4 linked regions of the Homo sapiens genome follow. The main gene of each other region encodes a partner of the protein of the gene in region 2 in a complex. Each region holds a gene or a part of one and is shown on either strand. Other genes may lie near its edges.

Region 1 (7,024 bases), on a different chromosome or scaffold from region 2:
GGATGGGCTGGAGAAGAGAAGGAGCCAGCCATGGCGCAGTTCTTGTTCTTAGCATGATGAAGGGCCACAGATTGGTGTGCAGCAGGGTGACGAGGGGCAGACATACCTCTAGTGGTCATCAGGCAGCCTGTGGCAGTGGATGGGGTGAGGCAGAGATGCAGATGAGGCGCCACCCAGCATCCAGGGAGACAAAGGGCTCAGGCCTGCAGCTTCAGCATCAGTGATTGATGAGAAAAGGAAGGGCAGAGGTACAGCCTGCAAGTTGCTGACAGGTTCAAGATTTGGGGCAACAAAAATGAGAAAACCAAGAACAAGGCCTAAGTTAGGGCTTAGTGTGAAGAACTAGAAGTGGGGGGTGGCCTGAGGGCAACAGGGAGCCCAAGAGGCAAGTGTCAGGCAAGGAGAGTCCATGACATGAGAACACTGACCACTGGCCTGGGCTGAAGACGAAGAAAAAGCCAGCCAGGGGCACATTTAACAGAAAAATGGGGGTTGAGGGAGGGGTCTTTCTTTAAGGGCTGCTGATGCAGCTGGCCCAAGGCCATCAGAGTCAGTGACTGACAGGAGGAGCAGAGTCTTGGAGCCCAGTGGCCGGGCCTGAGAGCAGCAAGGCCACTTCAGCAGGAGGGCGGGGAGAGGGACATCCACTTGTTCTCACAGCAGGAGACACTGGCCTCAACCCAGTGTGGGTCCCCTCAAGATTCTCACAGGGGCACAGAGACGCCAGGCAGGCTTGAGATGAAGCCCAGGTGGTTCACAGCCAGAGCAGGTGAGCAGGGCCCTGAGAGCTCAGGCAGGGCACGGCAGGAAACTCAATGCTGCCGTCCAACACCAGCCTTCAGAAGCCCCTGAAGTTTTGTCAAAACAGACCGAGAAGCCCACCCTGCAGAGGCTTAGGCTCAGTAAGTCTGGGGTCTGAAAACTTGTCCCAGGTAATGGCGTTGGTCAGGGGACCACACTGGTTGTATAAATAGGCTGTCCCTGAGAAGATGACAGAAGTAGGGGTAAGAAAACCAGACATATACAGCTGGATGTAGTGGTGCACGGCTGTAGTCCCAGCTACTTGCGAGGCTGAGGCAGGAGGATTGCTTGAGCCCAGGAGGTCGAGGCTGCAGTGAGCCATGATCACACCACTGCACTGGAGCCTGGGCAACAGAGCAAGACCCTGTCTTAAAGAGGAAACCACAATCTGGAGACACAGTCCTTCCTCACTAACCTGGCCTGCCTACTAGAGGGGAGGCCTGAGGCACCAGCCTGGGTGTAGGGCAGGCCTTGTGCTTGAAGGTCCCAGCAGTGGGCTCTGGCTGGGCCAGGTCCTGGAAACAGGGCCAAGGCCCTTGGCAACAGGTTAAGGGATGGGAAGGCTGTGGGCTCCCAGGGGCCAGGAAAGGGGATGCAGGCAGCAGGCAAGCAATTTATTGGCTGGCAGCAGAGGGCAGGCTAGAAAGGCTGGAAATGGAGATGTGGACATGGGCCCCCAGCCCTGCAACCCCACCAAGGTCCACAGCGGCCAACCTGCTGCTACCAGGAGCTGAAGTCCCCAAAACCCCGACTGGGCTTCTTCTTGGACATGGGGACAGTGGCACTGGTTGAGGGCTCTTCCTCTGCTGCTCGCTTCCTGGGAAGAGAAGAAGCCGCTGGGAGCCCACACCCTCCCTCAGCCCCTCCTGACTTGTCTGTGTCTCCATACAGCCCTCCCGGTGTAGGCCCAACCCCTCCCACCTGCTGCTCCCACATCCCCCTGAATTTGATCTCTTCCACCCACAGAGGCCCCGGCCAGGCCTTCAGAGGCAGTCCCTCGGCTGCAGAGGCCACACAGCACAAGCCCACGGCCGGGACCAGTGCCCATAGCTTGCTTGCCCCTCTGGGTCTGACCCTCAGACCTCAGTCAGCCCTAGGAAACACCATGGGAAACAGGGAGGCCAGCCCCGCGGCACTCACGTGGCTGCTGGGTTGATGTACTTGCCCACGCCCTGGCGGAAGGTCTGGGGGCCCTGGCTCCCTGCCTGGGGCTGGCTGCTCTTCACTTTGGTCTCCGGGGCTACCTTGAGCTGTGTCTTCCGCTCCTGCGCAATCTGTGGCACAACAGGGCGCTGGCTAACCGGCAGCACCTCGGGCAGGACAGATGCTAGGCTTGGGGTGGAAAAGTGCACTAGCCCAGACCCTCCTAGGTGGTGGCATCGTGCCCCCTCACCTGGGCATCGGCCTCCTCATAGGGGTCCACGAACACTGTAGTGGCATCAATGCGGATCTCCTCCTAGCAGCAAAGGGGGCTCAGTGCACGGCAGGTCCTCCCCCTGCCTGCCTGGCCCCCAGCCGCCACGCCCCACCTCCCTGGGCACAGACCTTAGGGCGGTCAGTTTTGGGGTCACTCTCCACATTCTCCATGGCTGTCAGTACGTCAAAGCCCCCAACAACCCTGCAGCAGGGAGACAGAGGTGGGTCTGCGTGTGCTCAAGGAGGGCACCCCCACGGCTGAGCCCCAAGGCACGTGGGAAGAGGGGTTGAGAGCCCCGAGGCTGGCCTGGTGGTCCTTGGGCAGCAGCCAGGAAGGCGATGAGAGGGAGTGGCAAGGGCGGGGTCGGCTGACCATGGCCCTGGGCATATCCAGCTGGGTTTTTTTCTGTTTTTGTTTTTTTTTTGGTTTCCCCCACCCACAGGAAAAATAGGAGTCACAAAACGTGGCTTGTGCTCTCCCCGCTGGTTTGGTAAACAGAGTTCCACTTGGCCAGAACCACATCACCTGCGTCCACCCTGTTTCGTGCTGCTTCCACACAGCTGGGTGGGCGTCAGAGACCACGTGGCCCACAACGCTGGAAAGACCCCTGGACTAGAGGGTGAAGGGAGCTGGGTGTGGCCAGGCTTGCGAGTGGCGCGCCACTGGGTCTGAGACAGGGCAGTGTCCAGGCCACATGGGCGAGTTTCCTCCTCTCCTGAGCCCGGTGGGTCTAGAGAGCCAGACTTCCCTGGCACATGGAGCACCCTCCATCGCAGCTCTGCATAGCCTCAACCCCCAGCAGTGATGGCCAGCATGGCACATGACTCAGGTCCACGAAAAAGGCAGTGAGGAGGCCTCAGGTGGGGAAGGAACCCACCTAGCCCACTGACCCCCCAGGCTTCACACAGCCGCTTCCCTTACCGTCCAAAGATGGTATGCTTCTTGTCCAGGTAGGCACAGGAGCGAAACGTGATGAAGCTGGGGAGGAGGGCTGGATGGTTAGGGAGAGCATGGCACCTTCTGCACCTGGCCTGCCTAAGAGCACACCAGGAGCTGCCCACCCTCTACAGCCAGCTCTGGGAACCTGCAGCTTCCACGGACGCATGTGTGCACGTGGTTCCCTGCGCTGCCCACCAGGGCAGGTCATTAGCCCCCAAGGCTGCCCAGGGGACCCCGGAACTCCAGCTGTCCCCAGGTCTTCCTGCTGCCCCGGCTGCTGCCCACTGCCTGTCAGGTGGTCCCTGTGCCCAGAACCAGGTTGGCCATGCAGCTCTGTGGGAGGTGGCTGGGACGAGGGGACACCTGGAAAACCAGAGCCAGCCCCATGTCATCAAGGGACCTGTTGAAGGACTGAGGAGAAAGGAGGCAACAAAGCCAGAACAGGAGTCAAGGGATTAAGAAACGTGGGTAACATAAATAAACATGGACTAAGAAAATGCTCAGGTCGTCCAGGCACAGTGGCTCACGCCTGTAATCCCAGCACTTTGGGAGGCCAAGGCAGGTAGATCACTTGAGGCCAGGAGTTGGAGACCAGCCTGGCCAACATGGTAAAACCCTGTCCCTATTAAAAATACAAAAATTAGCTGGGCGTGGTGGCGTGTGCCTGTAGTCCCAACTACTTAGGAGGCCAAGGCAGGAGAATCGCTTTAACCTGGGAGGCAGAGGTTGCAGTAAGCTGAGATCACACCACTGCACTCCAGCCTGGGCGACAGAGTCTGTCTCAAGAAAAAAGAAAAAGAAAAAAGGAAATGGGGTGGAATTAAAACAGCCAACAGCACTGCCATGAGACGAGGAGAGAGTTTCTGCCAGCCTGGTCTGGGAGGAAGGCAGAGACTACCTCATAACTTTGGACTTTTTTTTTTTTTTTTGAGATGGAATCTTGCTCTGTCCCCCAGGCTGGAGTGCAGTGGCGCGATGTCGGTTCACTGCAAGCTCCGCCTCCCAGGTTCATGTCATAGTCCTGCCTCAGCCTCCTGAGTAGCTGGGACTACAGGCGCCCGCCATCACGCCCAGCTAATTTTTTTGCATTTTTAGTAGAGACGGGGTTTCACTGTGTTAGCCAGGATGGTCTCAATCTCTTGACCTTGTGATCCACCTGCCTTGGCCTCCCAAAGTGCTGGGATTACAGGCGTGAGCCACTGCACCTGGCCAACTTTGGACTTTAAATAGATGTCCTTCTTAACCTTAGACCAGAAGTAAAACATCTAATTTCCAAACCAGCAGAAAGAGAAGAGAAGCAAATGAAAATAAATATAAAAAATGGTAACTAGAAAGCAACAAGATCATAGAACGCAACAGACCACCTGAAGAATTAAGTCCACATTTAAGATTGTCAGGATTGGCCAGGCACAGTGGCTCACGCCTGTAATCCCAGCACTTTGGGAGGCCAAGGTGGGCGGATCACAAGGTCAGGAGATCGAGACCATCCTCGCTAACACGGTGAAACCCCATCTCTACTAAAAATACAAAAAATTAGCCAGGCGTGTGGCGGGCGCCTGTAGTCCCAGCTACTAGGGAGGCTGAGGCAGGAGAATGGCATGAACCTGGGAGGCGGAGCTTGCAGTGAGCCGAGATCGCGCCGCTGCACTCCAGCCTGGGGGACGGAGCGAGACTCCGTCTCAAAGAAAAAAAAAAAAAAGACTGTCAGGATGAAGGAGAACACGACAGACCCCAGCTGTGAGCCTTCAAAAAGCCCTCAGAGGGCAGAGCCAGAGAGGCTGAAAAGAAAACGATGGAAGACATGGGGTGGGTCCCGGCGCTGGCGGCACGGAGCACTCCCCAGGGTGGTGCAGGCAGGCACAGCCCACAACCCGGCTGGTGAGACACAGGACTTAACCTCCACTGCATCAAACATGCACCCCCCAGCCACGCAGGGACACGCTCCTGAGCCCACCAAGTCTGACCACACCCGAGGCCACCAGACAAGTGTCCGCAGATGTGACATCTGCAACGGTGCAGACCTGAGCTCTGACCTGCAAGCAGTTCCCTCTCTTGCTGATTTCTAACACAGTGAAGGAAACTAGAAGCAGAATTAAACTCAGATAAGAGGAAAGTAAAAGAACCATCCTGAGGCAAGCTCCTCCTAGAAAATCTTTTTTTTTTTTTGGAGACGGAGTCTCGCTCTGTCACCCAGGCTGGAGGGCTGGAGTGCAGTGGCGCGATCTCGGCTCAATGCAAGCTCTGCCTCCTGGGTTCACGCCATTCTCCTGCCTCAGCCTCCTGAGTAGCTGGGACTACAGGCGCCTGCCACCATGCCCGGCTAGTTTTCTGTATTTTTAGTAGAGATGGGGTTTCACCGTGTTAGCGAGGATGGTCTCGATCTCCTGACCTCGTGATCCGCCTGCCTCGGCCTCCCAAAGTGCTGGGATTATAGGCATGAGCCACCGCGCCTGGCCTCCTCCTGGAAAATCTTTAATTACAAGAATCACAAAAGGGAAAACAAAGCTGTAACAAATTAAAGTCTAATGATCTTTGAATACGGTAAAATAGGCAAACCTTTGGCAACAGTTGTCCAAGAAAGCACAAAATACTACTAGAAATAAGAAAAGAAGGCCGAGTGTGGTGGCTCATGCCTGTAATCTCGGCACTTTGGGAGGCTGAGGTGGGTGGATCACCTGAGGTCAGGAGTTGGAGACCAGCCTGGCCAACATGGTGAAACCCTGTCTCTACTAAAGTACAAAAAATTATCCTGGTGTGGTGGTGGGCGTCTGTAATCCCAGGAGAACCGCTTGAACCCAGGAGGCAGAGGTTGCAGTGAGCCGAGATCCCGCCATTGCACTCCGGCCTGGGTGACAAGAGTGAAACTCCATCTCAAAAAAAAAAAAAAAAAAAAAAAAGAGAAGGTGGCAACTGATCTGTCAGCAGTTTCACAGGCTGGTTAAGCCAAAGAGAAATAAAAAATAATAAAATGATTCCCTGCCCTGGCCCCTGCCAAACAACAAAAACAAACCACGCACCCAACCTACTTGAAAATAACCAACAGTCCTAGGCAATCCTTGGCTGAGAAGAAATTGAAAGGGAAGCTACCAACAACCAGCAAGCAGTGAAGAGGGAACATGCACCCTCAAAATGACAGACGTGGCTATCAGAAACACACATGGATTAAAGTGAGGAAGGAGGAAAAGCACCATGAAGAAGCAAAGACAGAAACTGAAAACAATTACAAACCCTTCAAAGTGAAGTGAAAACAGACAAACCCTTCAAAGACCACTAAGGGACTGAGGAATGGAAAGTGTGATTAGGCATGAGAAAAAAAGGTCAGCACAGCGAGGCCAAGAGAATACCAGCCTTCATGGAAACAAGTGCCCGTTAACCCTGAAATGAAAGCCCCAAGGAAGTGGCACGAATAGCTGCCAGCTGCCTTTGCCCAGCTGTTAAGCACAGCTGACTCGTTTGATTTTTTTTTTTTTTTCCAGACAGGGTCTCACTGCTGCCCAGGATAGAGTGCAGTGGCGCGATCCTAGCTCACTGCAGCTTTGACTTCCCAGGCTCAGATTATCCCCCCACCTCACCCTCCCAAGCAGCTGGGACTACAGGCGCACGCCACCATGCCCCGCTAATTTTTTTTATTTTTTGTAGAGATCGGGTTTTGCCATGTTGCCCAGGCTGCTCTCGAATTCCTGGGCTCAGGCAATCCACCTACCTCAGCCTCCCAAAGTGCTGGGATTACAGGTGTGAGCCACCACGCCTGGCCATCCCTGTGATTTTAACCATTCCAGGCCACAAAGCCACAGCCAGCCCTGCTCGTAACATGCAGGGGCCACACCTGTCACAGCAAAACCTGCTGGAGCCAGTCCACACAACCGA
Region 2 (7,024 bases):
GGAATCAAGGAAATGGCCCTTACCTGGGAGGTGAAGTATATGACGATTATCCAAGGTTCATGTGTGTTTCTGATGTGCATGCTGGCCTTTAGTTGGGGTGTGAGGCTGCACATTCTGAACCAACTAGTCTGCTGTTCAGATACCTAGGGGCTGTGTAGTTTATTTCATATTCGTATAGGGTGGTCTGAAATCCTTAGGTAAGTTTTTGGGAGAGTCTTTGGACATGGACTAGAGGCCGTTGGGTGCCACAGATCTGTGTCTGGTGTTTGTTGTGACCAGGAGGCTTTGGTTGGTTACCAGAGGTTAGGAATTAGAGTAGTTGGTAAACACACCACTTGTGCATTTTGGGGCCAAAGGAGAACAAAAAGGGACAGTGTGGAGAGATTTTAGAGGAACAAGATCCTTGTTTGCCTAGGGTGGAAAAAGAAGAAAATTTAGGTGTAGGGAGGGATTATTTAGAATTCTGTGCAAGGGCATTGAGAGAAAGGCTGTAAGAACTGGGCTGTGATTTGGTAGAAAGGAAATTTGGAAGGGCAAAGAAGTGGTTTTCTTGGGAGACCAGGAGGATGGTGGAGCATTATACAGCGAAGACTTAGTGTGAAGATCAATGTTGAATTAGGGATGAAGGAGAGCAGGGACTTGGGTGTGGGGCGGTAAGTGGTTAGTTTGGGGCCAGGGGCCTGACCCGTGTCTCCCCGCTCCCCCTCAGGAGCGGTGGTGCCCCCCCCGGGCACGGGGCCATGTACAACGGGATCGGGCTGCCGACGCCCCGGGGCAGCGGCACCAACGGCTACGTCCAGCGCAACCTGTCCCTGGTGCGGGGCCGCCGGGGTGAGCGGCCTGACTACAAGGGAGAGGAGGAACTGCGGCGCCTGGAGGCTGCCCTGGTGAAGCGGCCTAATCCTGACATCCTGGACCACGAGCGCAAGCGGCGCGTCGAGCTGCGATGCCTCGAGCTGGAGGAGATGATGGAAGAGCAGGGGTGAGGGAGAGCTGGGGGAGAGTCAAGCACTGAATGAGTGCAGAGCTGGGGGTGTTAGGTGGGATGTATAGGGAGCTTAGGGTGGTTGAAAGAGGCCTGGCAAAGAGTTGTGGTAGGGGAGGAGGCAGATGAGCTCTAGAGAAGTGAAAACAGTTAAGGGACAGTGCAGAGTGGGAAATGAGAAGGCTGTGTGTCTGGGGCATAGATGGGAGCCTGAGGTACTAAATGGAGGCACGTGGGAGAAGGGAGGGGCCATTGAGGAACAAAAATGTGTTTTAAGGAAGAGATGGGAAAGCAGAGACCAGGTAGAGGAGCTAGGTAAGCTGATAGGTGTTGTCATTGGTAGAAAAGAAGAAGATAAATGGATGTAAGGATTGAGGCCTTGGAAAGTAGCATAGGCAGGAAAAGAGGAATTAGAAGAATACGTGAAGAAGTGGGAATCATGGGCTGGGAAGGGAAATTTTGGAAAAGGAGCCCATTAAGGCAGAAAACTCTTTTAGAGCAGTGGTTTTAAACTTCAGCAATGGTGATCCTTTTATACAGTATCCCTTACTTTGGAATCCCAGGAAGTAAAAGGCACATTCTTGTTGAAGTTGGGGAGGAGCACTTGGAACCCTGCTTGCTTAACTTTTTTCTTTTGGTCCCTGAGGTGTAGCATATTTAAAATCCACTGTTCTAGAGGGAGTAGTAAGTAGAGGGAAGAAAGATGATGGGAAAAGATCAGACAGAAGGGACTTTTGGGTGAGCGAAAAGTTCTGTGTGCGCATGGAGAGGGAGGGGCCCCTTTTGGGAATGAGGGAAATGGAAACCTGGGACTGGGGAAAGTGTCCTGTCGAGCTTAACCCTGAAGGGATTTGTTCTTCAGGTACGAGGAACAGCAAATTCAGGAAAAAGTGGCGACCTTTCGACTCATGTTGCTGGAGAAGGATGTGAACCCTGGGGGCAAGGAGGAGACCCCAGGGCAGAGGCCAGCGTGAGTGTTGCGCTCTCCCTCGATGACTCTGGACTCTACTCTGGCTGCTGGCTGCTGCTGCTGTCCTTTTCCTTACGTGGGACTTCCTCCCTGCTTTCGTCTGCCTTTCCCATGCCTTATTTGGCTCCTGCTTATACTTGTGTTCTGAATATGGCTCTGTCCTTTATATTTCCTTCAGACTTTTGCCCTTCTTTTCTCTAGGGTCACGGAGACTCACCAGTTGGCAGAATTAAATGAGAAGAAGAATGAAAGACTCCGTGCTGCCTTTGGCATCAGTGATTCTTACGTAGATGGCAGCTCTTTTGATCCTCAGCGTCGTGCCCGAGAAGCTAAACAACCAGCTCCTGAGCCTCCCAAACCTTACAGGTATACAAGGCCAAGAAACCACTGTCAGCTTCTTTTCTTGATTGTAAGCTCCATGCTCTATTTTTGTCTTTTTGCGGGCTGGTTTCTTCCCAAACTCTTCAGATTTTGTTCTTCTGAAGTTGAGGTGTCCAAAAAAATGTGTCCAAGGGTTAGTCACAGTGGGTCACGCGCGTAATCCCAGCATTTTGGGAAGCTCAGGCAGGAGATCACTTGAGGCCAGGAGTTTGAGACCAGCCTGGGCGATGTAGTGAGACCCCATCTCTACAAAAAGAAAAAAAGCTGGTTGGTGGCACATGCCTGTAGTCCAGGCTGCTTGGAGAGGTGGAGGCAGGAGGGTCTTTTGAGCCCACAAGTTGGAGGTTACGGTGTGAGCTGTGTTGCTGCCACTGCACCCCACCTGAGGCAACAGAGCGAGACTCTTATTTTTTTATTTTTATTACTATTTTTTTAGACTCTGTCTTTTAAAGAAAAGAAAGGAATGTTTGTTCTACCACCCATCTCTGCTGCTTTTCATTTTTCCCTAGCCTTGTTCGGGAGTCTAGCAGTTCTCGCTCACCAACCCCAAAGCAGAAGAAGAAGAAAAAGAAGAAAGATAGAGGACGGTAAGTTAGTTGGAAAGTGACTCTGATAGCCAGAGGACCAATCCTGTGGTGTACCTTTCTCTCTGGAAGTGGACAGTTCTGGCTTCCACAAAGCAGGAGATAGTTGTCAGGGAGGAGGGAGTTACCATTGAGGCCTCAACTAGAAGAAATACCTGAGTTTCTCAGTGGGGAAGTGTTGAGTTTGCAGTTCTGCTAATTAAGATTGGCCAGCAGCATTTTGGATTCTGGAATTTTCTTTTTCATTTTGAGGTTTGTTGACTTAAGGAGTTACTTGTGCTTGTTGGAGAAAGAAGAAATAAGTCCTGGGCTTAGGTCTGGGGCATTAGTGCTATTAGGACATTCAAGTGTTTTAGAAACCTTTTTAGGAGAGAGATTGTAAGTGGGAGGGCCAGGAAAGAAGCCAAGCAGGATGAGCTTGCTTTTGAATCCATCTTTAGCAGGTCAGAGAGCAGCTCTCCTCGACGGGAGAGAAAGAAAAGCTCAAAGAAGAAGAAGCACAGGTATGAGGTGGGAATACTTGAATGACTGGAGAAGGTTTGCTGAATTCAGGCAGAGGTGTTTCTTATGTTTTTTCTTCTCTTTTTTCCAACAGGTCAGAATCTGAGTCCAAGAAACGTAAGCATAGGTAAGAGCTCTTTAACTCATAGGGGGCGCAGTGGCATGTGGAGTGGTGATTTTTTTTTCTTGGAGTGAAGCTCAATTCCTTGATCTTCCTTGTGTCAACACTCCCTCTTTCCATTTCACTTTTGGTTTTATTTCCTTTTTTAAAGAAGTTACTTTTAACAACCTTTCCTTATTTCCCAGGTCTCCCACTCCAAAGAGCAAACGTAAATCTAAGGACAAAAAGCGAAAGCGGTGAGTGAATTTGTGGGGAATTTGCTTAGGAAGTAAGTGAACGCCACCTTAGTGGGAGGGAGTTGAATGAGTTATGTCCCTGACTGGTAAAGGGTTGAGGGATACGTGAGGAGAATCCAGGGCAGGTACAGCAGTACCCTGAGCTGTGGTGGTGGTCTTCCTTCAGGTCTCGAAGTACAACACCAGCCCCCAAGAGCCGCCGGGCCCACCGTTCAACTTCTGCTGACTCTGCTTCCTCCTCCGATACTTCCCGCAGTCGGTAAGGGGTAGTCCAGGAGGAAGGGAGGGAGAGGGAATGATGGGTTAATTAATTTAATATTTATTGAGCGCCCACGGTGTGCTAGGCGCTGCACAGACCATTCGGAAGACACGGTCCCTGCCCTCTAGGAGCTGACAGGCTAAAGCAACAGGATGGACAGACATATACATTTCCCCTTCTCTTTTTTTTTTTGTTTTTGTTTATTTGTTATTTTTGTTTCGTTCTGATGTATATGGACTGCCAGAATAGGGGGGGTGGTGGTTTGTTCGTGGTGTCTGGGGGAGGAAGGAATCCTTACCCTGGCTTCCTTAATCGGGGAAGGCTTCCTGAAGGAGGTGGGCTCAGAGGTGAGTTGTGAATGAAGCGGGTAGGGAGTGGGCTGGGTGGATGGTTTGGGGATGTTTGGGGGAGGTGAGTAAAGGGGTAGAGGGAGAACGCTCTTTGGGATTGTGTTGGGAAAAGAAGAACCAAAGTGGACTGTACTTGCATTTCAGTGAATGATTTGAGTTGTGCGACTAAAGGCTTTTTGGAAGAGGGTTGTCCAGTTAGGAAAGGTGGATGGGAGTTGGGGAGGGGGTTTTCTGTTCTCCCTTTGAGCTGATTTCCTTCCTCTCCCACGTCCTCAATTAACTCCTGCAGGTCTCGAAGTGCTGCAGCTAAAACTCATACAACTGCCTTGGCTGGGCGAAGTCCTTCCCCTGCTTCAGGGCGACGCGGGGAGGGAGATGCGCCTTTCAGTGAACCAGGTACTACCAGCACACAACGGCCTAGTAGCCCGGAGACTGCTACGAAACAGCCTAGCAGCCCTTATGAAGACAAAGATAAAGACAAGAAGGAGGTATGTTCCTGAGTTGGTGATGTTCATTGGATTGCAAATGTATAGATTTAGGATAGACATGTGATGTGAAAGGGAGAGGTAATAACTTATTAAAATAAATAAATTCAGTTTTTTTTCCTGCATTTCTCTCCTAGTTCTCTTACTGCATCTGCAGAACTTTTAGTGTTGTTACTAGACTGAATTGTGAACCCTTTAGAATCAAATCTCACTGGATGTTAGGTTTTATATTGTGTCTTGTTTATACATAGATAGAACTGGAACAAACGTTGTATCTTATCTGTGTACTCCGTATGATGCCTCTAGTTTCTTCTCTTTTTTCATTAAATGCTGGTCATGTCTCACCAAAACTTTTTAATCCATTGCGTTGCCACCAATAGTTTGAATGAAACACTGAAATAGTCTTCAGTAGTCTTCTGTTCCAATTTTAAGCATTAATCATTTCCTCTTGCTTTAGTGATTACAGTCTGAATTCTTGGCCTCTATCATCAATTTTCCATGTCATCCAGGGTTACCTTTCCAAATTACAAGTTGGTTGACCTCAGAAACTTAACTACTTCCTTATTGCTTTTGAATTATATTTAAGGCTTTTAATAGTCTGGTCTTTTTCTCATTTCCTGTACTCTACCCATCCTGGGCTGCTTTTTTACTCTTCACACAAATCATGTTCTCACATCTTTATTCATGCTGTTTCTTTTCGTTTAATAGAGTTATTCTTCAAAGGTGAAGTTGCCATTCGCTTTAGGAAACTGCTTATTTTTCCATTTAAAGATAGTTTTTTTCCATTCTTATAACATTTTGTAGTGGTATTTGTTAAATGTAGTAGTGCATTAGTTATTTGCATTTTGTGTTTCTTTTAGTTTTAAGATTCTGGCTATCCATATATTCATATGTTTTCACCACTGTGCTTTATATGATTCCTTGTTATTGAATGAAAGTGATCGCTTGTGGTCAGAGGGTGTGTAAAAGAAAAGTTATCATTGGAAAGGGTGTTGGGATCTTAGGGGTGATGTGAAGTTTTGGCGTTTATGAATCCCTATCCCTGCTCTCTCTTCCACTCTTAGAAATCTGCAACTCGACCTAGCCCCTCTCCGGAAAGGAGCAGCACAGGCCCAGAACCACCTGCTCCCACTCCGCTCCTTGCTGAGCGACATGGCGGCTCCCCACAACCCCTTGCAACCACCCCCTTAAGCCAGGAGCCAGTGAACCCCCCATCTGAGGCCTCTCCAACTCGGGACCGTTCACCACCTAAGTCTCCCGAGAAACTTCCCCAGTCTTCTTCCTCAGAGAGCAGCCCACCATCCCCTCAACCTACCAAAGTTTCTCGGCATGCCAGCTCTTCCCCAGAAAGTCCTAAACCTGCTCCAGCTCCAGGGTCCCACCGAGAGATTTCTTCTTCTCCCACATCTAAGAATCGCTCACATGGCCGAGCAAAACGGGATAAATCACATTCTCATACCCCCTCCCGTAGGATGGGGAGGTCCCGTAGCCCTGCCACCGCTAAGAGAGGGCGATCTCGGTCTCGAACCCCTACCAAGAGAGGTCATTCTCGATCCCGATCTCCCCAGTGGCGTAGGTCCAGGTCTGCACAGAGGTGGGGAAGATCTAGAAGCCCCCAGCGACGTGGCCGCTCTAGGTCTCCTCAGCGACCAGGCTGGTCTAGGAGCAGAAATACCCAGAGAAGAGGCAGGTCTAGGTCAGCAAGGCGAGGGAGGTCCCACTCTAGATCCCCAGCCACTAGGGGTAGATCTCGTTCTAGAACACCAGCCCGCCGGGGCAGGTCCCGCTCTAGAACACCTGCCAGGCGGAGATCACGATCCAGAACTCCCACCAGGCGTAGGTCTCGGTCTAGAACACCAGCCCGGAGGGGCAGGTCTCGGTCTAGAACACCTGCTAGGCGCAGATCTAGGACCCGATCACCAGTACGACGCAGGTCTCGTAGTAGATCACCAGCCAGGAGAAGTGGCAGGTCACGCTCTAGAACCCCAGCTAGACGTGGCCGCTCACGCTCCAGAACCCCAGCCAGACGTGGCCGCTCACGCTCTAGAACCCCAGCTAGACGCAGTGGTCGCTCACGCTCCAGAACACCAGCCAGGAGAGGGAGGTCTCGGTCTAGGACACCAAGACGAGGAAGATCCCGCAGTAGAAGCTT
Region 3 (6,933 bases), on a different chromosome or scaffold from region 2:
ACTTCCCTCCCTAAGCACAGAGGGAACCATTAAGTGTATTGCACTTATAGAAGGGGACATATCTAATATGGAAAGGCCTCCAGGTACAACTCTAGAGGGCACTGTTTATAGGAAGCCCAGTATGAAGAGTGCCCTGGAGAGGTGTGTAACACAGCAGTAGTGCAGTAGTTTAGTACAGGACATTATTTTGGGGGAAAGCATATCCTTTTATAGATTCCTTCCATATTTGGTTCTCTAGAGATCAAACTTGTTCTTAAAGTCCCACAAAATAATACTTTTGATTTTAAAATCAACTATAAAGTTTAGCACTGAGGTCAGGGCTATATTTGAATAACAGTAACTAAACATAAATATATGTCACTTCTTAAAGCAAAGACATAACAAGTATTTTAGAATAGCATGGTAAATCAATTATTAGAGATGAAAGGAGGAAACAAAACATACATCTGTTAGAGGGTCATCTGCATCAAGGTTGGCGGCAGGAATCTGGTCTAACCGTGGCTTTTTTGACACTGAAGAGGAGGTTGTATGTTCTGGGGGGAAACAAAAATCATTTAACTTAGTAAAACAAATACTTCATTTCTTAAAATGTTTTAGGGACCTGTGAGCACAAGGAGCCCACATTAAAAGCATTATCCACAGTGAACTCACATCCACAGTGCCTGGGCAAATAAGCCTTTGGTAAATATTTGTTGTTATTATCTCTAATGACCTAAGAAAGTAGTACAGCTCACATCAATCTGTAAAAGTAAACAAATGGTTAACATTTTCCAATTGCTACATAAAGAAAAACTATCAACAACATAATTTTATGAGACAAATGTCTTGGATAGTGTTGGTACCTCGGGTTGGACGATCCCTATTTTTCTCTCTTGCAGCAGCTCTCTCTCTTTCTTCCAACTCTCTCCTGAAGTCACGGTTACGAACCTCTTCAGGGGCATCCTGAGTAGTCTGTCTAAAGTAGAAACAAACCAGGGCAAAAATGTTACTTAAACACACACACACACACACACAGAGACTGTAGTAATGGAAGACAATTCAGGAATGAGACTTTGTCCTTCAAGCAGAAAAAAGGGAAGTAGACAAGATCATAATTTAATCTGAAGGTTACTAACAGCCACTCTTGTGATGTTCCCAATATTTCAAGAAGTCCAAATTCAATCACATATTTTCCTATAATAAGGCTTTACAGTGATTAAAATGTCTTTAATTTTTATTAGGATTATATCAACTCAGAACTTAACAGTAATACTTTTAATATACTGACTGGTGCTCATAGTGCATACTCTGAGGCATTATTATTTCTATTATTTATTGTTCTATCTACATATGAAAATTCCTGGTTAGTAGGAATTTCACATTTTAAAATCACAGCAGAATTTTAGTGTTAAACATCCTATTGCATTCTATTCCTATGAAAATAGATAAGTGACATAACTCAAACATACTACTATATCATGACCATGCCATTTAACAGATCTGGTCTTGTTTTGTGAACAATAAAAAAAGAAAGTCTTACTACCTGTATTTTATCTTTGTATGAGAGGGTAGGTCTCTGCTTGAATACTGCTTTGAAAGTTGGCTCAAATCACCTTCTCCTTTTCCCCTTCCACCTCTGGCAGGTTCAAAGGTTGGCCTGGCTGCTGTTGTCATCTTTTATGCTTTGAAGAAAAATATAATCAAGTTATTTCCAACATTACAAACACTCATTTTATAGAGTATTAATCAATATCCATACTGGTAAAATAAGTTCTAAAACTCATTCCCCAAAACCTGCTTAATCTTCTTAAACAAAAGTTTTCAAGAAAACAAATTATGAGGCTTAGGCTGTACAAGGAATATGGCTTCTCAGGCTTGCCTTAGTACAAAAAATTCTGTCATGAAGATCTGAGTTTGCATCCCTATTCTCCTTCTGACTATATGGGCTTGAGCAAGTCACCTGGCTTAACTTTGTCATCTGTGGAATGGAGATATTCCTCATAGATTATAAGAATTATGACACTTGACATGTCAAAACCCTAGTAAAATACAGTACTGCCATGACTGAGTTTTAAAAATTTCCAACTCAACCTTACTCTACCAGACTCTGTAAGGTTTGCATTTTATCTAAACTTCACACAATAGCAAATAGGCTAGTAGAAACAAAAGCTAAAAACAAACAAAAAATATCACTGACAAAGTTACTAAATGTCCCAGAGAAAAGTGTGTTAAACTTCAATGACAGTTACACAGAAAAAAATTCTTAAACAACCGTTTGTTGAGCCAATTTTCTCCTACAACAGGCATCATACTATAAATTAGATCGTTTGTGGGTTATAATTTAAGGCCTGTTCAAAAAAAACAGGAACCTCACCCCCAGAGGATTCTGATGCCAAAAATCAGGGACTCATTCCTCAAGTTACTTTCTGCTTGGAGCAGTCACAAGAATACTGTGCAGCAGATGCAGTCACTAAAACCCTGTTAGTGTCGGAAAAGCAAGTGTGTGGGGAGGGTGGGCGAATTGGGAGGATTTTTTGGGGGGGGGGCGATGCTAATTCTCTCAACTTTCAAAAAGGGTAGAGACATGTATACAAAGAAGAAAACAGGGTTATCTGGCGCTGGGGGCGCCGCCCCTTCCCACACACCCACGGAATTATCACTCCGGCCTCCCGTGAGCTAGTCTTTGGCTATAACCAGAAACTCGCTGCCTCTTCACCCGTGCCCAGCACTGCAGGGGTGCGAAGGGTAGTGAAGGGAGGACCTGGGGTTCGCTTTACGCAGTAGGCGAGCTGCCTGTACGCTGCGATCTCCTCGGCGGGCCCAAGAGCTCCAGACGCGCCTGACAGGCACTCGGTTCCGCCCCTAGCCCGCTGCTCCAGGGCCTCCACCGCCCGCGCTCTGCACTCTGCCGCCGACTCCGACCCCAACTGCCCTTTCCCGTCCCATCGCGATAAGAAAGATAATCTCCTATCCTCTTGCCGCTCACACTGGCCGAGGTCCGATGCAGCAGGCTCCGAAGATCATACAGACGCCATTACCACTCTTGGCTCCCAGAAACCTCTGCGCCCAGAGCTAGCGCCTACGACCCGGAAGCAAAATCCAAGCGCTTCGGGGGCGGAAGCAACGACCAATCCGCAGTGGCCGAAGTGGAAGTCGGCGTAACGGCACTAAGGGGCGGGGCCGAAGCGGCCCAGGGGGCGGGCGTTTGAAATCAGTGCCTTAGAGTAGACCCTAAACCTCATTTTATACCTTCAAGAACCAATTACTTAATGTCTCTTCCGTCTTTTCCGTCCCCGACCCCCTCCCAGACTCCTTCATTCCGGTACTGCGTGGACGGAAAGCCCCGGGTAGCCGACACCACGTCCCCGGCTAGCGGGAGAGAGCGTGGAAAAGGATTACACCAAACTGTTTAAATCCAACGACTCCTGCTTCCATCCTTTCTCCTGAGCTAGAACCAACAAACCTAGAGAGTTGGGCTTCGGAAAAACTAGTGTTTTCATTTAATTGGATATGAAGAAAGAACAAATATGTACGGGGCAACCACGATCTTTACAAAGGTACCATTCCTGCAAAAATATTAACACTTCAAAGCAAAGGTTGTATTCGTAATGTTTGCTAAAATTTCTTATTTAAAAAACGTTAGTTTTAGTGGGAGGGGAGATGTCAGTATTTACGAGAGCGTTTACAATGGTGGGCCCAACTACCAGGAGCACAAGATGTAATTATTAAGATGGCTACTTAAGTGTTAAGTTTTAATAAGACAACGAAAAGTAGAAAACCCGAAAACCAAAAACCTACCAGTCGTCTCTCCTCCCTTCCATAAAAACAAATTCTGAGAATAGAGATCTTGGTTGTTTAGCTCATCTTGGTATCTCATCACATAGACCTTGACGTATAGTAGCTGCTCAATTAATATTTGTTAAACAAATGAAAATTCAACTTCCCCAACTTAGTTTAAAATGTAAGGAACTCACAAAATTGAATATTTAAATGCTTTCTTACCCCTAAATTCTTTGCAACTTTTTAATGAAGAAAGAAAAGCAGAAAAAGCCCTTTCAGTCATAGAGTTCAAGATGAAAATCCTGATTTTTCTTACCGAAGGTATCCCTCCTCCAGTCTTAACAAGTCTCACTAAAAGACGCGATCATCATGCTAGTTACTCAAACCAAAATCCCGGAGTGCCTACTTAAATTCCTTTTCATTCACTCTTCACATACGGTTCATTTACAGGTCTTAACAATTCTACTTTTAAAACTCACCCGCAATTTTATTCTACTGCCACTACCCTTGCCTTTGCCAACACCATCTCCTACCTGGATTGTAATTGCTTCCTATTATATCTTCCTGCGTCATCTTTTATCCTACAGTCAGTGTTGCATATAGCCAAGAGAGTGATCTTTTAAAATTAATAAAATGGTGTTACTATCCTGTGTACAATTTCACTGCACTTAGAATAAAAATCACATTTCTTAATGTGACCTGAGACCCCACGGAGTCTGGTTCCTGCCTACCTTCCAGACTTCACTTCCAATCAGTCACTCGCTTACGCACTAAGCTCTAGACACAGCCAAGTGGGCATTTCTGTTTTATAAAACAGGGCAAGATTCCTTCTATTTTAGGGCCTTTGCACTAGCTTTTCTCTGTTGCCTGTGCCCCAAAGTAACTGTATCACCATCCTTCATGTCTCAGGTATCACAGTGAGGTTTTCCTACCCCCACCCCTCCAACACTTGTGTTTGTACACCATCACATCACCCTGTTTCATTTTTCATACCACTAAACATTACCAGAGTCTATTCTATTCATTTTTTATTTCCATGTCTCTCAGGAGACAGCATGCGAAGGTCATTAAGAGAAAAGGATCTTCAGCCTGCCCATTTTTGTTCTAAATTCCAGTTCTGCCCTTTCCTAGCTCTATAACCTTAGGCAAGTCATTTTCCCTTTCTGTGCTTTCAGTTTCCTCACGTGTAAAATGGGCGTAATTCTAGTCCCTAACTTGTAATACTACTCTAAGGATTAAGTGAATTAATACTTGTAAAGTGCTTAGAACTGTCTCAGCAAATAGTACTTGCTAAATAAATGTTAGCTATTATTATTATTATTAATATTATTTTTATTATTATTGTCTATCTTCCTATATTAGAACATAAGTTCCAGGAAAGCAGGAACCTTGTCTCTCTTGTTCACTGGGTGTATCCTCTGCATATAGAACAGTGCCTGGCACATAATAGGTGCTGAGTAAGTATTTGTTGAATGAATGAATGAATGAATGATGCACTATGAAGTAGAGGAATGACGTAACAATGGCAAGATGGTAACACAATTATAGGAGATACCCACAGTTTTTATGTTCCAACTGTCCTCATTAGCCTGGAGTGAATCACTTCATTGATTTAACTCCCAGCCCACTAACCTAATCTTTTGGTTGCCAGTGGTGATAAATAGCCACCCTATAATTTCATTAACACCAATATACAATATAGTCAATCCACAAAATTAAAAGCTTTTGACTTAAATGAAAGTGCTAATAAGAAAATGAAACTAAAGCTTTTGACTTAAATGGTTTGAAAGTATTAAGAAAAAGAAACTTAAGTTTACTAAAATCTTGAAATTCATCTGATCAGTTAACCTAGCTGGCAAAAATCATATAACCTCCCAAGAATTCTTATGTTAAACCTGTTACCACAAAATCTAGTTTGGCCCTTAATTCTGCCTGCCAGTCCTCTTATGCTCTCCTAATTGTTTATTTTCCCCCTCTACAATAATATAATTTCCCACATTCCCCTTTCTTCAAGTCTACATGCCTCTTTCACCTCCTTTTCCCTCTGCATTCTCTTTCCTGGCAGTAGATCTTCTCAGTTCTCTGAGAAAACAGAAGCTCTTAAACAAGGACTTCTCATCTCCTTTTTTCCGCAGATCTATCGAGCTGCCTTTGGCTATTCCTGTATCCTCAGATTCTCATTATTACTGGAGATGAGGTGACCCACACTCTCCCTTGTGCTCTGGGTCCTAATTCCTCCAGGTTTCTTAGTGGCTGGCATTTTGCTATATATTTTCTCTTTCTTATGATCTATGAGGCCATCCCTTTCAGATCATTTTTATCAGCTTTTGGACATGGTATAGTATATCTTAACCTTAAAAAAGGCTCTTTCATTTTAGTATGCCAAAGGTAGCATTTAATTAAATGTGAAAGGGATGTAGTTTGGCCCTTGATTGCAAAACTTTCTATTTTTATGGCAGGAGTAGCATAGGAATTCCAGTTTAAAGCTTAAACAAAATCAACACCTAAAAGGGAAAATAGAAACCATAAAAACCTAAGAAGAAAATTTAAGAAACTATTTATAGAACCTAGAATTTGGAAAGACCTTTCAATCAAAGCAGAACACCTTAAGAGCTTTAAAAGAAATACTTTTAAAAATTCATTTATCCAACAATTAATTTTATAGCTGTAGATGCCAAAAACAAGTCAATAAATTCTAGATTCGCAAATAAATTTTGTAATGCCTATAACATATAAAGGATTACTGCTACTGCTAGTGATACACATAATATAAAAATCACAAATTACCCAATTAAAAAATGGACAAAAGATATAAGCAGGCCATTCAGAAAAAGCAATTTCAAATAGACAAGTCAATAAACATGAAAGACACTCAACCTTCTAATGAGGAAAATGAAAGTAAACTAAAAATGGATTATCACATTACAGCATCCGATTGGCAACAATTAAAAAAATTAATAACATAGTTGGATGGGATTGAGAGAAAAGGGGATCCAGTCAGACAGCGGGGGGCATTGGTCCCCCATTACCCTCACAGTAAAAGCCAAGGTGTTCACAATGGTTTCCAAAGTTTTCTATGGTCTACCCTTTCCCCTACCTCTTTGACCTCATCACTTGCTCATGCTTTTCATGGCTACCTCCTTCATATTGTTGCTTGGACACGCACACAGCTGC
Region 4 (7,024 bases), on a different chromosome or scaffold from region 2:
CATGAAAAGTTAAGGATATATATATACTGTTCCTTAGAGTAATGACTAAAAAAAAAAAGTACAAAATGTAGCTTAAAAGGCTACAAATTAAAATAGAATTTTAAAAAATATTTAAAACAGAGGCTACCCCCTCCCTCACCTGAGGATGAGAGCCCTGTAGGGATAACCCTTATCTCAGCTGGATTTTAGGACCATTTGCCTCAACAAGATGACTCTGTTGAAACCAAATTGCATGACTCCTTCCAAAGCTCCTGTTTTAATGGCTATAAAGGTATAGAGAGCCATAAAACTCAAAACTTTACTCGACTTACTTTTGCTCAAAGATATTGGTATTTTTTTCCCTACCTCTACTAGCACAACCATTTAACATTTCTAACATATCCTTTATTACCTTTAAACCCAGTGTTATTTATACGTACATTTGTTCCCCAACAAATAATACAGCACTTCTGTTATTTGCCCAGCATCTTTCTAGGCACTGGATAGGCAGCAATGAACTACCGTAACAAAATCTGTTCATGTGAAGCTTACATTCTAGGTATAAGAAACAAATCTATAATGATAAACAAAACACTAAGCCACTCAAGCAAGGTGACAGGTTGGACTTTTTTCCTACAGGTCAGTTTTAAATCACTACTTAACAGTGTAAAACTAGTTTGATGTCACTATATTAAACACAACTTGAATCAAGAAAAAATGCATGACAGGAGAATTACTTGTACATATATTGGGGCCCACCTCTGACTTACAAAATCAGAAAATGGGCAGAAAGTGTAGGGGAAACCCATGCATACTTGTTTTATGAAAGTATTCCCAAGGTAACTCCAAAATCCAACTTTTCCCCAAGTCTCCTCAGCTTTTCAATTTTACATAAGAAACTTTGGTTCTCAATTTGTTCTCAAACCATGAGCCACTTAGGCAGAATATAGAGACCCCACAGCCTACCTACTTTATAGTGAAGAACTTAGTTGTAAATCAATTGGAAAGGGAAACAGAAAATCCAAATGTATTAATTCTTAATAATTCATAGGTAAGAAGTGTTTTTTAAACTTGAGAAATTATGGCCACAATTTATAATCACTTATACAATCTTCCTCAATCCTCATAATTACCCTGTTCTGGTGATTTTTTTTTTAGCCATGTTTTTCAGTGAAACAACTGAAGTACAGAGAATTCAAGCAATTTGTCCACGTAAATTACACCTAGTAAATGGCAGAAGCTAAACTTCAAAGCCAGGTTTATCTGATGCCAAAGCCATATATTTTGTCCCAATGAAAATGCCAACACTAACGAATTGAAGCCAAAATGGTAAATTATAAAATGTAAACAAGTACAGACTCTACTATACAGAAAATTATCCTAGCCTAAACTGATCCATTCGTTCAAAGTTCCAGATAGCAAAGACTGTGATTTAATATAATGAAGCACTACTTCTTTTCAAACATTCATAGTAATTTTAAGGATTCCTTTTTATTTAATTTAGCATACCTAGAATTCACTGTGACTAGGTATACTATGAGCAAAAAATAAAAATAAAAAATCACTTGACCCCATTGCACAAGATTTAGCGTTTTCCTTTGCTACTCTCCTGGAGTCTTACACCCGGTTCCTCTTCCCAACCTACTTACACATTTCAGAACAAGCAATTTCTGTGCATTTTATTTCTATTTAAATTTACATATTTCAATTTACATATTTCAATTTAGTGAGTTTTCTTCTGATCGATATCATCTTTCCCCTTTCAACTTTCATCAGCAAATAATTTCTGGCAATAAAGTACAATCTGTTACATTTCCATGTCTCACAACGTAAGTGTGAAAATGACAATATGGTAAAGTAGACTGCTATCATAGTTCTAACAAAAAATGAATAAAGTATTGTCATTGTCCAGATTTATGCAGAATATGCCTGTTCGGAAATTCTGAGTTCAACATATGCATGCTAATACTTACACTAATCGGAAATTCCTGAAATGAGAGCAATTTATCTAGAGTTTATAGCACTCTCTGCTCTTCTAAGCATCACTATGTGAATTTTATGGTGAATTATTAAATTTCTTTCCCCTTCTCACAAGAAAGCAACTCAACAAAACCACACCTGTTCTCCCGAAGAAAGGATATTTTCCAATAGGAGATATAGTATTCACGAGAGCACTATTAAAAAAAAGATAGTTTTTCTCTCAGTTTCATCAAGCATTAGAAAGCAAAATATTTAATAACATATATAAGTACGTCAGACTGTTAAGCAGAAAACTGTGAATTCTGCAATCATCTCAAAAATTAAGAAAATGAGAAAATATTCAACTAATGGCTGAAATGCACTGCTTTCCAGATGATTTCCGTAGCAAAACACTTCTACCATTGTCACTTCGGTGTTCTCAGTCCAAGTTAGAGGAACTTGCTGAAACATATTGTCATAAAATTGCTAAAGGAAAGGGGAATCAATAGTGAGTTACCTTTAGTTGGCTCCTCTGGCTTCTAAATAGTAAAAACAGGTTTGGTGAATTTCAAACATTTTAACAGAGTTCATATTTAAAACAAAAACAAAAACCAAAACAAAAACCTTAGTTGCCCAATGGGGAAAGTGGTAATATTATACAATACAAAATAAAAACTGTCTTAAAATTATTCTAAATGCCAAAATATAATGGGAGGGGACATAACGGAACGGAATTCTCAGAAAATACCTCAACAACAGCCAAGCCCCCAAGGAACGGATTTTCCTTTTCAGGGAACAAATAGGAGTAACAGATTGGCTTCGCTCTTGAACAATATAAAACAAGATTGCTATGTACTTTCCATATCTGTACTGAAGGAAAACTTACTTGTTTTAGAAAAACCGTTTCTTGCTATTTTTTCCTGTCTTAATTTACATATTAGTGAAAAAATTGCCTCATGATATACCTCATAAGGCCAAAAAATTATAATTTGATGTCAGCATAGAATCACAATTTCAAGAAAATAAAAGGGTCAAAATACTCCTGTCTCTTTCTAGAAAAGTCACCAGGTACAGGTTGAAAATCCTTTATCTGCAGTTCTAAAATCTGTAAAGCTCTGAAAATACAAAGATTATTCTTAAGCATGTGGCAACTCACTTGAGAGCAAAACTTAGCATATACTGACTTGATACTTAATGTGACTTGATACAGTGCAGAAATATTAATGTGTTTTGACTAGAGGATGTTACTCCAGACCCCAAAAGGGGGGATTACTTAATATGTAGTATAGGCACTGCAGTTTTCTAAAATCTACAAGATACTGAAATCAAAACACTTCTGGCTCCAAAAATTACAAATAAAGAGTTGCAGAGCTGTCCTCCCTTTTGCTTCATAGTCATTGCATATGCCAGGTGTGCTGACTCATAACCATTTGAATGACTAGATTGCCAGGTTCAAGTACAGGGCTAGAAGTTGTGCAGACAGTTCTGGACATTGTTTTCTGTAAGAAGTAAGTAATATAAAAGCATTTGACTGGTCTGCAACTCTGTGTGGAGAGTAGACAGCCCAAATTTTCAGACACTTTAAGACAGTAAGACACAGAGGAGTGAAAAAAAAAAAAGACATTTTAATGAACCCAGTGACACCATTATCTATACTGAAAACCTCACATTATAAATTGGGAGGTAGTATTACCCCCATTCATTTCCTGTATCATGAAGCTAGTCTATTTTAGGCTGTTTAAGTAACCAAATAAAGAGTTAAGTGATCCAATCATTTGGAAATACTATTAATTTTTTTACGCATAGGAAGATTCCCCAATGTGCTTCTTTTCAACAGAATGCAGGATCTATGAGAATAGAAATTTGTCTATTTTTGTTAGTTTCAACATTTCAATAAGCTGTCTCTTGATTTACAGTACAGTATTGATTTCTATTTAAGTTGGTTTTAAAGAAAAATTCTACATGTTGAACTTTTTAATGATTCATTTAAAAATAAATTATGATATTTATGGGGCAAATTCCCTTTATCCTGTCCCCTCTCTAGTTTTACTGTCTCATCCCTACACAGCTATTTTGTGATATGTAAGTTCACACTTGATGCCTCTAATTTTTTTTTCTTTTTTTTTTTTCTTGAGACAGAGTCTGACTGTCACCCAGGCTGGAGCGCAGTGGCATGATCTCAGCTCATCACAGCCTCCACCACCCAGGTTCAAGTGATTCTCATGCCTCAGCCTCCTCCTGAATAGCTGGGATTACAGGTGCGCACCACCATGCCCAGCTAATTTTGTGTATTTTTAGTAGAGATGGGGTTTCGCCATGTTGGCCAGGCTGGTCTCAAACTCCTGACCTCAAGTGATCTGCCCACCTGGGCCTCCCAAAGTGCTGGGATTCCAGGAGTGAGCCACCATGTCCAGCCTGATGTCTCTAATTCTTAACCTCTCCTACCCACTGTAATTCAGCTTTCCCTTCCCACTACTCCACAGCACTTACCAATGTTACACAGTAACTTTTTTTCTTGTTGCTAAATCCAGGGGCAGCTTCCTTCTTTTATGGGACATTGCTCTAGCATTTGGCACCTAATCCCCTTCTTGAAGTTCTCACTTGTCAACTTACAGGGACACCACCTTCATTTGTCCATCCCTTTAATATTTACTATGCCTGAGAGTTTAGTATTTGCTCATGAATTTATGTTTTGTTCATTGCTACATTCCCAACACTAGAGGCTCTCAATACATATTTGTTAAATGGATGAATGAATAGTCCTTATCTTTTCTTTCTCCATATTATCTGTGGAAGATCATCTCCATCCCCATAGCTTTAATTAACATGCGAAAACAACTTTTTACTCCAGCCAATCTTCTCTAGAGTTCCAAATCATGATGTCCAATTTGCTACAGGAAACCTCTAAGTGGATGTGCCAAAGGCCATCTGAACTAAAGAAATCCACAGTGGAACTAATTATTTCCTTCTCCCCATCTTAAACCAGCTCTTCTTCTAAGATATGACTTACAAAGCTTCCCAGGTGGCAATTTCCTTTTCCTTACTCCCTGTAAGTCACCAAATCCTACTGATTCTACCAAATCTGCCCATGTTTCCCCCTCATTCTGTCACTGTATATAGGAGGCTGGGGGAAGGTTCCATTTAGGCTAGGGCCATAATTGATATTTATATTCAGTGGCTGAGAAAAGCTGGGTGCAGTGGCATGTGCCTAGAGTCCCAGCCTGGGCAACATAGTGAGATCCCATCTCAAAACAATAGTAAAAGAAGATGAAAAAAGAAAAATGCTTACAGAGAAAATGAGGAAGTATGAAGCTAAGAGAAAAAGTACAGTCATGGTCTTTACTAAAGGCAGTGTCTATGTACGGTGGGGAGATATATACATTACACAACAGACAAGGCATTGAGGACTCTGTCCTTGGGTAAAGAAGAAATGTCTAAGTGCTACAACAATGTCATAAACAAGTGTTACTGGAAAAGAGGGTTTGGGACATACAGAAAGAAGTAGGTCTTGAAGCTGAGTCTTAAAGAACAAGTAGGAATTATCCATATCGAAAGGGGAAAAGGTCATTCAGGAAATACGATAAGCATGTGTAAAGACTCAGAGACAGAGAATTTGGGGATTCCAAGGTGTACATGAAAAACTGAACATGAATAAGATGGAACATGAGAGACTCATTAAGCTAAACTATGAAAGGCTCTGTATGAGTACACTGGATCCTCAAGGTTCTTGGTCACTGCTACATATCCAGAACCTAGGACAGTGTCTGCTACTTAATAAGTTCCAAGTCTAAAATTAAATAAAAAACGGGGAGTGTAGATTTCTGCTGATTACTCCAATTTCTGCCTACATAGAACTTCCTATAATGCCATTTTGTCAACTTGTTCATCAAGGAATACAACAGCAGCGTTGTCTCACCTATTAACTCCTACTTCTTGGAAATACTAAGATTTCCAAGTCTTAGTACATCAAGACAACACTATCAGATGCCACCCCCTATTAGTCTTCACTCCATGTTAACCTGTGGAACAGCTTGAAAACACTTCCTCATTGAGTGAGATGAAAAAAATACTAGTTCCTTTGCAGGCACTGCAAAAGGAAATCTGTCCCTGAAGGTGCAGTTCTTTTAACTTACAAAATCAACCCTAATTACTGAATATGCCATATGCCTTCATCACACATTCAAACCACTCTCTCCTGTCCCAAATCTGTTCCTCAGCTTGCCTAATTAAGTATATGGGTGAACACATTCTGCCAATTTTCAAGGCACAGCTTTGAAAGTCACCTGGTTATTTAATTAGAGAGCCACGTAGTAAACCACATTCTGGTTTAAAGAAAACTTGGAGGTGTTGGCCTCCACAGAGAAATTTAGCCCCTAGACATGCAAGCACTGCATTCTACTACAGAGGCTCCTGTAGCCAGGTCTAAAATAAAGCTATCCTGACAAACTATTTCAGGAAGGACTCACAGGGTAACTTTTCAGGTGGAAGTGCTGAACTCTGTCTAGCTCCACCCATTTATAAGTTAGGCTGAAAGACAGGTTAAACATGAGTCACCGAGTTCCTCCTCCCCACTAGCTAACCCATTCCACAGGAGTTAATATGTCCCAAGGCCAAGGCAGCCCATACCCCGTTTTTGGTATCTGTTCACTAGGAAAGACTTATTAACTTTATTATATAAAGGCTAGCTATAATCCATGCTTAAAGTTTGTACTTTGTTGTAGGTATTCAAATGTCTCTTCCAATGTCCACTTGGGAAATGTACATACTGAGAAAAAGTTTAAGTCTGGGAGTTTGCTGAAACTAGTATGCTCTCTGGCTTTATTGTTCCACCACCCTCCCATGCTCAGATAAACAGAAAAGTAGGGAAATTCGACAAGGGAGGCTTCAAAGTTATAAGAGGGATGCATGAATGTATTACCAATAGCCACTTCTTTCTCGGACTAGCTCCAGGCACCATGAACAAACCATGACCAAGTTAGGGATATGATGAGTAGTACAAAATTCCATTTAAATACAAGTGGACAATAAATTGAAAATATTATTCAAGTTAAGGCATGGGCATCTGAAATACAAAATGCATCACTGT

What was found.
Region 1: SRRM2 (region 2) and PPIL2 share a complex: the UniProt entries of both Homo sapiens proteins name them as parts of the minor spliceosome.
Region 3: SRRM2 (region 2) and CWC15 share a complex: the UniProt entries of both Homo sapiens proteins name them as parts of the minor spliceosome.
Region 4: SRRM2 (region 2) and CWC22 share a complex: the UniProt entries of both Homo sapiens proteins name them as parts of the minor spliceosome.

What each region holds. Positions count from the first base shown.
Region 1 is NC_000022.11:21,689,988-21,697,011, reverse strand, and holds part of PPIL2 (RING-type E3 ubiquitin-protein ligase PPIL2), read right to left. Parts: intron 5,628-7,024; coding exon of another isoform or gene 5,519-5,627; exon of another isoform or gene 4,834-5,518; intron 3,197-4,833; coding exon 3,140-3,196; intron 2,420-3,139; coding exon 2,347-2,419; intron 2,258-2,346; coding exon 2,195-2,257; intron 2,076-2,194; coding exon 1,942-2,075; intron 1,619-1,941; coding exon 1,522-1,618; coding exon of another isoform or gene 1,416-1,521; 3' UTR 1,146-1,415; coding exon of another isoform or gene 860-1,145; 3' UTR 128-859; coding exon of another isoform or gene 1-127. UniProt on the Homo sapiens protein: Has a ubiquitin-protein ligase activity acting as an E3 ubiquitin protein ligase or as an ubiquitin-ubiquitin ligase promoting elongation of ubiquitin chains on substrates.
Region 2 is NC_000016.10:2,755,625-2,762,648, forward strand, and holds part of SRRM2 (serine/arginine repetitive matrix protein 2), read left to right. Parts: intron 1-709; coding exon of another isoform or gene 710-740; coding exon 741-982; intron 983-1,847; coding exon 1,848-1,955; intron 1,956-2,156; coding exon 2,157-2,321; intron 2,322-2,845; coding exon 2,846-2,923; intron 2,924-3,360; coding exon 3,361-3,423; intron 3,424-3,515; coding exon 3,516-3,548; intron 3,549-3,727; coding exon 3,728-3,778; intron 3,779-3,944; coding exon 3,945-4,037; intron 4,038-4,122; coding exon of another isoform or gene 4,123-4,165; exon of another isoform or gene 4,166-4,498; intron 4,499-4,676; coding exon 4,677-4,875; intron 4,876-5,936; coding exon 5,937-7,024. UniProt on the Homo sapiens protein: Required for pre-mRNA splicing as component of the spliceosome. As a component of the minor spliceosome, involved in the splicing of U12-type introns in pre-mRNAs.
Region 3 is NC_000011.10:94,970,533-94,977,465, forward strand, and holds the start of CWC15 (spliceosome-associated protein CWC15 homolog), read right to left. Parts: upstream 3,025-6,933; 5' UTR 2,966-3,024; exon of another isoform or gene 2,741-2,965; intron 1,662-2,740; 5' UTR 1,654-1,661; coding exon 1,523-1,653; intron 956-1,522; coding exon 843-955; intron 534-842; coding exon 445-533; intron 1-444. UniProt on the Homo sapiens protein: Involved in pre-mRNA splicing as component of the spliceosome. Component of the PRP19-CDC5L complex that forms an integral part of the spliceosome and is required for activating pre-mRNA splicing.
Region 4 is NC_000002.12:179,997,276-180,004,299, forward strand, and holds part of CWC22 (pre-mRNA-splicing factor CWC22 homolog), read right to left. Parts: intron 2,632-7,024; exon of another isoform or gene 2,456-2,631; intron 1-2,455. UniProt on the Homo sapiens protein: Required for pre-mRNA splicing as component of the spliceosome. As a component of the minor spliceosome, involved in the splicing of U12-type introns in pre-mRNAs. Promotes exon-junction complex (EJC) assembly.